Regions from separate parts of the Homo sapiens genome. Here region 2 is linked to region 1. Evidence: fine-mapped expression QTL. A gene starts in region 1. The other region holds a variant in brackets. All regions are shown on one strand. Distances are from middle to middle. Region 1 holds the start of FCSK (fucose kinase). Region 2 has its middle 51 kb from the start of IL34.

What was found. PIP is the estimated chance that this variant, and not a neighbour inherited with it, causes the effect. A credible set is the group of variants that fine-mapping cannot tell apart.
Region 2: its variant is the best candidate, but not a certain one, in a credible set for the expression of FCSK in sun-exposed skin (GTEx, PIP 0.77).

Annotation. Positions count from the first base shown.
Region 1 is chr16:70,452,374-70,456,759 of GRCh38, forward strand. It overlaps FCSK (fucose kinase), which reads left to right and starts at 2,222. Exons shown (of 24, transcript NM_145059.3): 1 at 2,222-2,257. It overlaps LOC124903708 (a long non-coding RNA gene), which reads right to left and starts at 2,163. Exons shown (of 2, transcript XR_007065104.1): 1 at 1,945-2,163; 2 at 664-1,094.
Region 2 is chr16:70,593,420-70,597,805 of GRCh38, forward strand. It overlaps a transcript of IL34 not described here. Among named protein-coding and RNA genes, the nearest start is that of IL34, 51 kb to the right of the region's middle. The variant C/T (reference allele first, on the strand shown) is at 2,452.

The sequences.
Region 1 (4,386 bases):
GAGGTTGCAGTGAGCCGAGATCACACCACTGTACTCCAGCCTGGGCAACAGAGTGAGACTCTGTCTCACAACAACAATAACAAAAAAATTGGCCAGGCTCATCTTGAATTCCTGACCCCGAGTTTTCTGCCTGCCTTGGCCTCCCAGAGTGCTGGGATTACAGGCATGAGCCACTTCGTCCGGCCCTAATTTATATATATTTTAGAGACGGGGTCTTGCTATGTTGCCCAGGCTGGTCTCAAACTCCCAAGCTCAAGCCATCCTCCCACCTTGGCCTCCCAAAGTGTTGGGATTACAGGCGTGAGCACCTGTGCCCAGCTTTAGGCTCCTTATTAACAACAGATTTGGAAAGTACATTCTTGTAAGAAAAATTCAAACAATACAGATAAAGCTCAAGTTCTCCCCGCTTGTCCCCATGCTTAGCAGTCTCTCCCTAGCATGCGTTCGCTTCCAGCCCTGTTCCTGTGTATCCACACACTATCTGTCCATAAACATTATTTTTTATTTGAGGGGCTTCCCATACATATTGCTCTACAACTTGCTGCTTTTCCCTTAACATGATGTCCTGAACATCACTCCCTACTGAACATATAGAGCATCTGTCTTGCATGGATGTGCCTAGTTTAGTTTTCCAGTTGTAAACCAAAAAGCACCAGATACTGGTCTCAATCAATTTACAAGTTTATTTTGCCAAAGTTAAGAATGTGTGCACCTGGGAGACAGGTCTGTACCTTTCTCCAAAGATGATTTTGAGGGCTTCAATATTTAAAGGGGAAAGGTCAGATATTGGGGAAAGAGGAATTTTTTTTTTTTTTTTAGACAGGGCCTCACTGTGTTGCCCAGGCTGGAGTGCAGTGGTGCAATCTCAGCTCACTGCAACCTCTGCCTCCCGGGTTCAAGCGATTCTCCTTCCTCAGCCTCCCAAGCTGCTGGGACTACAGGTGCGCGCCACCACGCTCAGCTAATTTTTGTATTTTTAGTAGACGGGGTTTCACCATATTGGCCAGGCTGGTCTTCAACTCCCGACCTCATGATCCACCCGCCTCGGCCTCACCAAAGGGCTGGGACTACAGGTGCGAGCCACCGTGCCTGGCCTGAAAGAGGAAATTTTTAAAAGGCATGGGTAGGTAAGAGGCAAATGGCTGCATTCTTCTGAGTCTTTGATAAGCCTTTCACATGTTAGAGGGGGATAGAGGACTAGTCACTTATGCATTCATCTAGCTCAGTGAATATGCATTTTTACATAAGAAAAAATAAACATAGGGCAGAGGAAGCAATGAGATATGCATTTGTCTCAGGTGAGCTGAGAGATGACTTTCAGTGCTGTCAAAGCCCAGCACCTGTGAAGATAAGCTATAAATTTACATTGTCACTGAAATTCCACACAACTGTTTTAGGGTACAGATTTGGGGGCACACAAGGAATTTCCTAGTGGGCAAGTTGTGAGGGCCAGGCCATATCTAGCTTTTTTATCTTTGTAGTTATCTTGTTTAAGAATAAAATGGGAGGTAGGTTTCCCTGATGCAGTTCTCAGCTTGACTTTTCCCTTTGACTTAGTGACTTTGGGGTCCTGAGATTTATTTTCCTTTCACATAGTAACCTAGAGAGAGACACTCAGAGTATTTCCAATTGTCATCTATGACAATCAATGCTGCCATTCACAACTTTCCCAAAAGGTCCGCAGATCCCCTCCCCATTACGGAGTTGGAAAGTTTCTTCCCAAAGGATCCACGTGATGAAACCAGCGCAAACCTTTCCAACTGCAAATCGAATGGCAGCTGCTTCCGCTTGGGCAAAGCGTGATTTTTTTTTTTCCTCCATCAGTGGATTTTTCTCCAGAGGAAAGCGGAAGCTCCTGGTGCCGTCCAGAAGGTGTTAAAAAAAAAAAAAAAAAAAAACCCAAACGAGAAAACAAACAAAAAAGCTACACATTAACCTATTAACCTGGATCCCGGAGTCCCAGAAAACGGGCCTCTGTCTTTAAGGCGCTTCGGTCCTCTGGGAGTTGTAGTTTCGTGGGTCCTGGAGCGGCCCCCTTCCCATCTCCCTTCTGGATTGCAGCCCCGCTGCCCTTCAGGAAAGCGCTGCCCCGGCCACCCACGCTGGCCTATGCGGTGGCTCCGACCGTGTTTTTTGCCGGACGGGGGCTCGGCCTTGGGGGGGCGCGGAGGTGAAACTACACTTCCCGGAGTGCACCGCGAGGGTCGCGCAGCCTCGCGTTAAAGAGCCCGCTCCGCCGAGCGCCGGGCGACGGCAGGTACGTCAGTCCGCGAGGGTCGCCGCAGCGCCCCTTGCGCCCCTTGCGCCCCTTGCGCCCCCTCAGCTTTCCGGTGCACCCTCCCTGACTGGGAGCACCGAGTCGACCCGCGGGCCGCCCGGGTCCTGACAGGGAAGAGTCCCCGGGAGCTCTGCGGTGCCCCGGGAGCCCACAGGTGTTTCTACGCTCCCGCGTCCATTTGGCCTGGGTCTTCCAAGGGGAGCCCCGCGACCCGGCTGGTGCGGCCGGACCTGCTGGCAGCTGGGACCGGGAGGGATGCGGGCCTCAGAGGATCCTCACCCTGAGGCAGGTGGGGCCCTGGATGCCGGCGCTGCTCTGATTTTACTTTGAGGCCGCTTCTCCTCTCTCAGTTTACCCGGCCAGGGCTCAGTATTATGCACAAATCTCAATGATGTGCTCTTGGGTAATTTACAAAACGATTTTACTCCCAAGTAACTTCTTTCGGTCTGTTATTTAGAAGGCAGCAAGTCAGAGTCCTCCGTGAGCCTTTTTTTCCTCTTTAAAGTTCTAAAATGTGCAGTCCCTGACCCACCTGTCTTCAAAAGGTTCATATGAAGAGTTCTTAGTACTTTATTCTATCTCTGGCTCCCCAACCCTATCCCAGTCTTGGACAGCGTGGGGCTGAGGACACTAAAAAATATTTCAACTTGATCTCAGCAGATGAGGCTGTATTGAAAGTGGGTAGAGGCTGGGCGCCAAGGCTCATGCCTGTAATCCCAGCTACTTGGGAGGCTGAGGCGAGGGAATCGCTTGAACTCAGGAGATGGAGGTTGCAGTGAGCCAAGATCACGCCACTGCACTCCACCCTGGGCGACAGAGCGAGACTACGTCTCAAAAACAAAACAAAACAAACCAACAACAACAACAACAAAAGAACCTTAGGGCCTTAGGGCACACTTTCTCAGGACCTCTTGAGATTGTGTAACTCCAGCAAACTATTAATTAAAAAAAAAAAAAAGGCCGGGCGAGGTGGCTCACGCCTGTAATCCCAGCACTGTGGGAGGCGGAAGCAGGTAGATCACCTATGGTCAGGAGTTTGAGACCAGCGTGGCCAACATGGCAAAACCCCCTCTCTACTAATAATACAAAAATTAGCTGGGCGTGGTGGTGCACGTCTGTAATCCCAGCTACTTGGGAGGCTGAGGCAGGAGAATCACTTTAACCTGGGAGGCGGAGATTGCAGTGAGCCGAGATCGCGCCATTGCACTCCAGCCTGACGACAGAGGGAGACTGTCTCAAAAAAAAAAAAAGCCAGGCATGGTGGCTTACACCTGTAATCCCAACACTTAGGAAGGCCAAGGCGGGAGGATTACTTGAGTCCGGGAGTTGTAGGTCAGCCTGGGCAACAAAGGGAGGCCCCATCTCAACAAAAAATAAAAAACTAGCAGGACTCATGCATAGTCCCAGCTACTTGGGAGGCTGGGATGGGAGGATCGCTGGAGCCCGGGAGTTTGAGGCTGCAGTGAGCTGTGATCACATCACTGCGTTCCGCCCTCTGGTGACAGAGCCGGACCCTGTTTCTCAAAAACAAAACAAAACAAAACAAAAGCCTAGCCTGCCTGTGCTATTAAAGCAATGGCAAAAGCCAAAATTACTTTTGCACCAACCTAATAGCTATGTTTCTGCTTTTTAAACTACAGTTTTCTTGTCTAGAGCTTCAGTGAGATAAGAACCAATTCTTAGGACTGTTGGGTGGGTCATATGAAGTGACACTGATGTGCCTTTGCCATAGTGCCTGAAAAAGCACTCCATATGTATTAGCTACTTGTATCATTTTACCTTTTTTGTTAATCTCTCAGGGGATGTCCCTCAGCCTTGCTTGATTCCCGAGGCCTTCCCTGATTTTTTTCTTCTTCAGGACAGTCTTTAACTCAGAGAATGTTTGAGAGCTTCCAGTCCTTCCTCCTTCAGGGACAGGTTAAACTCTCCTGCTTCCTTGCCTGGCTGGAAGGATTATCATTCATTGAGCCACTGGTGTGTGCCACATACTTTACATTGTATTTCATGCTGAAAACAGTCCTGGGAGGTTGATGTCTTTGGCCTTAAATTTCAGATTAGGAAACTGAGGCTTAGAGAGGTTAAGTAACTGCTGGGCATGGTGGCTCACG
Region 2 (4,386 bases), 140 kb after region 1:
TGTTTAGGTTCAAGTTTCATTTTGAATAAATTTTTGTGAAAGGTCTAAGGTCTAAGGTCAGACCTTAGAATCAAGATTTCTTAGTACCTAGTTTGTTGTTGTTGTTGTTATTTTTTGAGACAGGATCTCACTCTGTTGTCAAGGCTGGAGTGCAGTGGCATGATTGTGGCTCATAGCAGTCTTGAACTCTGGGCTCAAGTGATCCTCCCACCTCAGCCTCCCGAGTAGCTGGGACTACAGGTGCATGCCACCATGCTGGGCTATTTTTTTTGTATTTTTTCTTTTTTTGTGGTGATGGGGTCTTGCTGTGTTGCCCAGCCTGATCTCAGACTCCTGCCCTCAAGCAATCCTCCTGCTTTAGCTTCTTGGAGCACTAGGATCAGAGGTGTGAGCTAGTGTACCTGGCAATATCTAGATTTTTTTCTTGCAGGTGGATGATCAATCATTCCAGCACCATTTGTTGGAAAGACTATCCTTTTTCCATTGAATTGCCTTTGCTCCTTTGTCAAAGATCAGTTGACTATATTTGTGTGAGTCTATTCTTGGTTCCCTATTGTTCCACTGATCTATTTGTCTGTTCTTTCACCAATACCACACTATCTTGATTGCTATAGCTTTAAGTAAGTCTTGAAGTCAGGGAGTGTCAGTTCTCTAATTCCATTCTTCTTTTTTGTGTTGTCCTTCTAGGTCTTTTGCTACTCTGTGTAAACTTTAGAATCAACTTGTAGATATTACAAAATAACTTTCTGGGATTTTTATTGTGTTGCATTGAATCTACAAAGTTGGGGAGAACAACCATCTTAACAATATTGAATCATCCTATCCATGAACATGGAATATCTCTCCATTTATTTAGATCTTTGCTTTCTTTCATCAGGGTTGTATAGTACTCCTCATACAGATCTTGTACATATTTTGTTAGATTTATAGTGAAGAATTTTATTTTTAGGGTGCTAATATAAATGGCATTGTGCTTTCAATTTCAAATAGGTAATATGTGCATACAGTAAAAACATTCAATAGAGAGAGATTGGTTTATAGTGAAAAGTGGCTTCCTCTACTTCTCATTCCCTAGGCCTCCATTCATCTATCCAAAGACAGTTACTGATGCCTGGTTCTTATGGGTCCTTCCAAAGATTGTATGTGTATATTCAAGCTCTAATCTAATTCAAGCTCAATATCTAATCCTCACAAGAATTCTGCCTGGCAGGTCTTATTATCTCTGAGGGAGGGTCAAGGGCCCAAAGAGGACTTTCTGGGGAGGACTCTCTTCCTCTTCAAGAGCTCAAGCAGAACACACTGGTCCTGCCAAGATCTAGGGGCAGGGCTGCTACTGCTCAAGGCCAGAGGAAACAGGTTTTGGAAGGGAGGGCTTCTTGCCAAGCCAGTGGGTACAGATGAGGAGGAGGTGAGGAGGAGGCTTTGGGAGGCTGCCAGTCTACTCTGGGCAGATTCATATCAAATATTCTAGGCCTTGGGAAACCCTCATATTTCCAGGTGGCTGCATTTCAATTTATCTCTCTCTCTCTCTCTCTCTTTTTTTTTTTTTTTCTGAGACAGAGTCTCCCTCTGTCGCCCAGGCTGGAGTGCAGTGGTGCGATCTCGGCTCACTGCAACCTCTGCCTCCAGGGTTCAAGCAATTCTCCTGCCTCAGGCTCCCAAGTAGCTGGGGTAACAGGCGCCCGCCACCACACCCAACTAATTTTTTTTCTGGTATTTTTAGTAGAGATGGGGTTTTGCCATGTTGGCCAGGCTGGTCTGGAACTCCTGACCTCAGGTGATCCGCCCACCTCGGCCTCCCAAAGTGCTGGGATTACAGGTGTGAGCCACCGTGCCTGGCCTGCATTTCAATTTCTTAGTTCTGTTTCCTCTCTAGTTTTCTTCTCCTTCTTCTTTCTCCTCTAATTCCTTCTCCTTCTTTTTCTTCTTCTGAGACAGGATCTCACTCTGTCACCCTGGCTGGAGTACATGACTCACTGCAGCCTTGACCTCCTAGGTTCAATTAATCCTCCTGCCTCAGCCTCTCGTGTAGCTGGACCACAGGTGTGCACCACTGTGCCCTGCTAATTTTTATTTTTAATAGTGATGGGTTCTCACTTTGTTTCCCAGGCTGGTCTTGAACTCCTGGACTCATGTGATCCTCCCACTTCAACCTCCCACAGTGCTGGGATTACAGACATGAGCCACTGCGCCAGGGCTCCTCTCTCATTTTGTAGGAACATTCTTCTGGGGAGTAGTCTAACCTTGTTTGGCTGACCTCAGGAGAAATGGGATTTGTCTTAGTCTGTTTGGGCTGCCATAAGAAAATCCGGCTGGGCGTGGTGGCTCATGCCTGTAATCCCAGCACTTTGGGAGGCCGAGACAGATGGATTACTTGAGGTCAAGAGTTCGAGACCAGCTGGGCCAACATGGTGAAACCCCATTTCTACTAAAAATAAAAAATTAGCTGGG[C/T]GTGGTGGTGTGCACCTGTAGTCTCAGCTACTCAGGAGGCTGAGACAGGAGAATTGCTGGAACTTGGGAGGCAGAGGTTGTAGTGAGCTGAGATTGTGCCACTGCACTCCAGCATGGGCGACACAGCGAGACCCCGTCTCAAAAAAAAAAAAAAAGAAAGTTGTATAGACTGGGAGGCTTGTAAACAACAGAAGTGTATTGTTCTAGAGCCTGGGAAGACCAAGATCAAGGCGCTGACAGATTTGGTGTCTGGTGTGGGCCCTTGTCCTAGGCGGCTGTCTTTTCCCTGTAGCCTCAGAGGCAGGAGGGGTGAGGGATCTCTCTGGGGTCTCTTTTATAAGGGCACTAAATCCATTCAAAAGGCCCACCATCACGACCTCATCATCTTCCAAAGACTTCACCTTCTAATACCTTCACCTTGAGGTGATGAATTTTGGGGGAGACACAGATATTCAGACCATAGCAGCATTTATTTATGCCAAGACTAAGACTGCCCGGAAAGGTGGCTAGGGCATCTCCAGAGGCACAAAGAGGACCGTGGTCATGACAGGCTGTGATATGGAGCCAGGGAGCGTGAGTTGCTGCAAAGCAGGCATCTGAGTGGCAGATCTGGGCCAAATCAACTTCTCCCCACGTCTTCCTCCCAGGCTGGAGGTGACTGTCTTCCACATGGCGTTGGGCACACTGGCATCCCATTTCCCACCACTGCCTCAGAAACTGGAGCCCCTGAAGCCACGCATATGCCTCTCTGTACCCGTCCCCCACACCCTGCCAAAAATATTTGTGCCCAGTTGCAGTGGGGGTAGAGCGACTATTGCCTGTGTGTGTCATGCTTATAGTAATGGTAGCTTACCACTGACTGCAAATTTCATTCCCTCTTTATTAAAAAAATTGGTTTTTTGTAGAGACAAGGTCTGGCTATGTTGCCCATGCTGGTCTCAAACTTCTGGTCTCAAGTGATTTCCCTTGGCCTCCCAAAGTGCTGGGATTACAGGCATGAGCCACCGCGACCAGCCTCATTTCCATTTTACAGAGGAGGATGGGACTCTGAAGCCAGACCTGTACTTGTACCCATAATACTCCATTGCCTCCACAGGGTCCCAGCACCCAGGGTATAGGCACGCTCAGTAGAGGCCGTCCCCAGCTCAACCTGTTTGTATGTGGATCACTTGAGCAGCTCAGGTGGGTGCCTGCTGCTTAACCCTCCTAGTGAACTGAGCCCCTTCTCCTCCGTTGTGCTCTGGGGTAGTTCCCAAGTGACACTGCTTTGGGCCATTACTGACTTCCTTATTTCCTAGGGGCCCATCTCCTAAAGTGAAGTTACCCCCTCACAGAGTTCAGCCAGTTTTTTAGCTTTTTTTTTTTTTGGAGACAGTGTCTTGCTCTGTTGTCCAGGCTGTAGTCCAGTGGCACGATCATGGCTCCCTGTAGCCTTGAGCTCCTGGGCTTAAGCGATACTCCTGCCTCAGCCTCCCATGTAGCTGGGACCACTGGCACATGCCACCATGCCTGGCCAAGTATTAATTTTTTCGTAGAGATGGGGTCTCTCCATGTTGCCCAGGCTGTTATCGAACTCCTGGGCTCAAGTGATCCTTCTGCCTTGGTCTCCCAAAGTGCTAGGGTTAAAAGTGCTGGGGTTATAAGTGTGAGCCACTGCCTCTAGCCCAGTTTTTTAGTTCTTGTTACAAATTGCCAAGTAAGGACTAATCCAGAAAGACTGGAGTATTTTGTCAATGAACATGTTTCAAACATATGTATCTCTTACAAAATGCAGCTGTTTAATTCCTAAAGGCAGAATGTGTTTTCTTACATGATGATGTACACTCTATACAAATGTAAGCAGTGTGTTTTTTAGCCCCTGCATCTATTAAATGGTATCCATTTTGTTGTCAAGGAGCTGATTCTTTATATAGCTGTCCCTCTCCAGAATAGGCC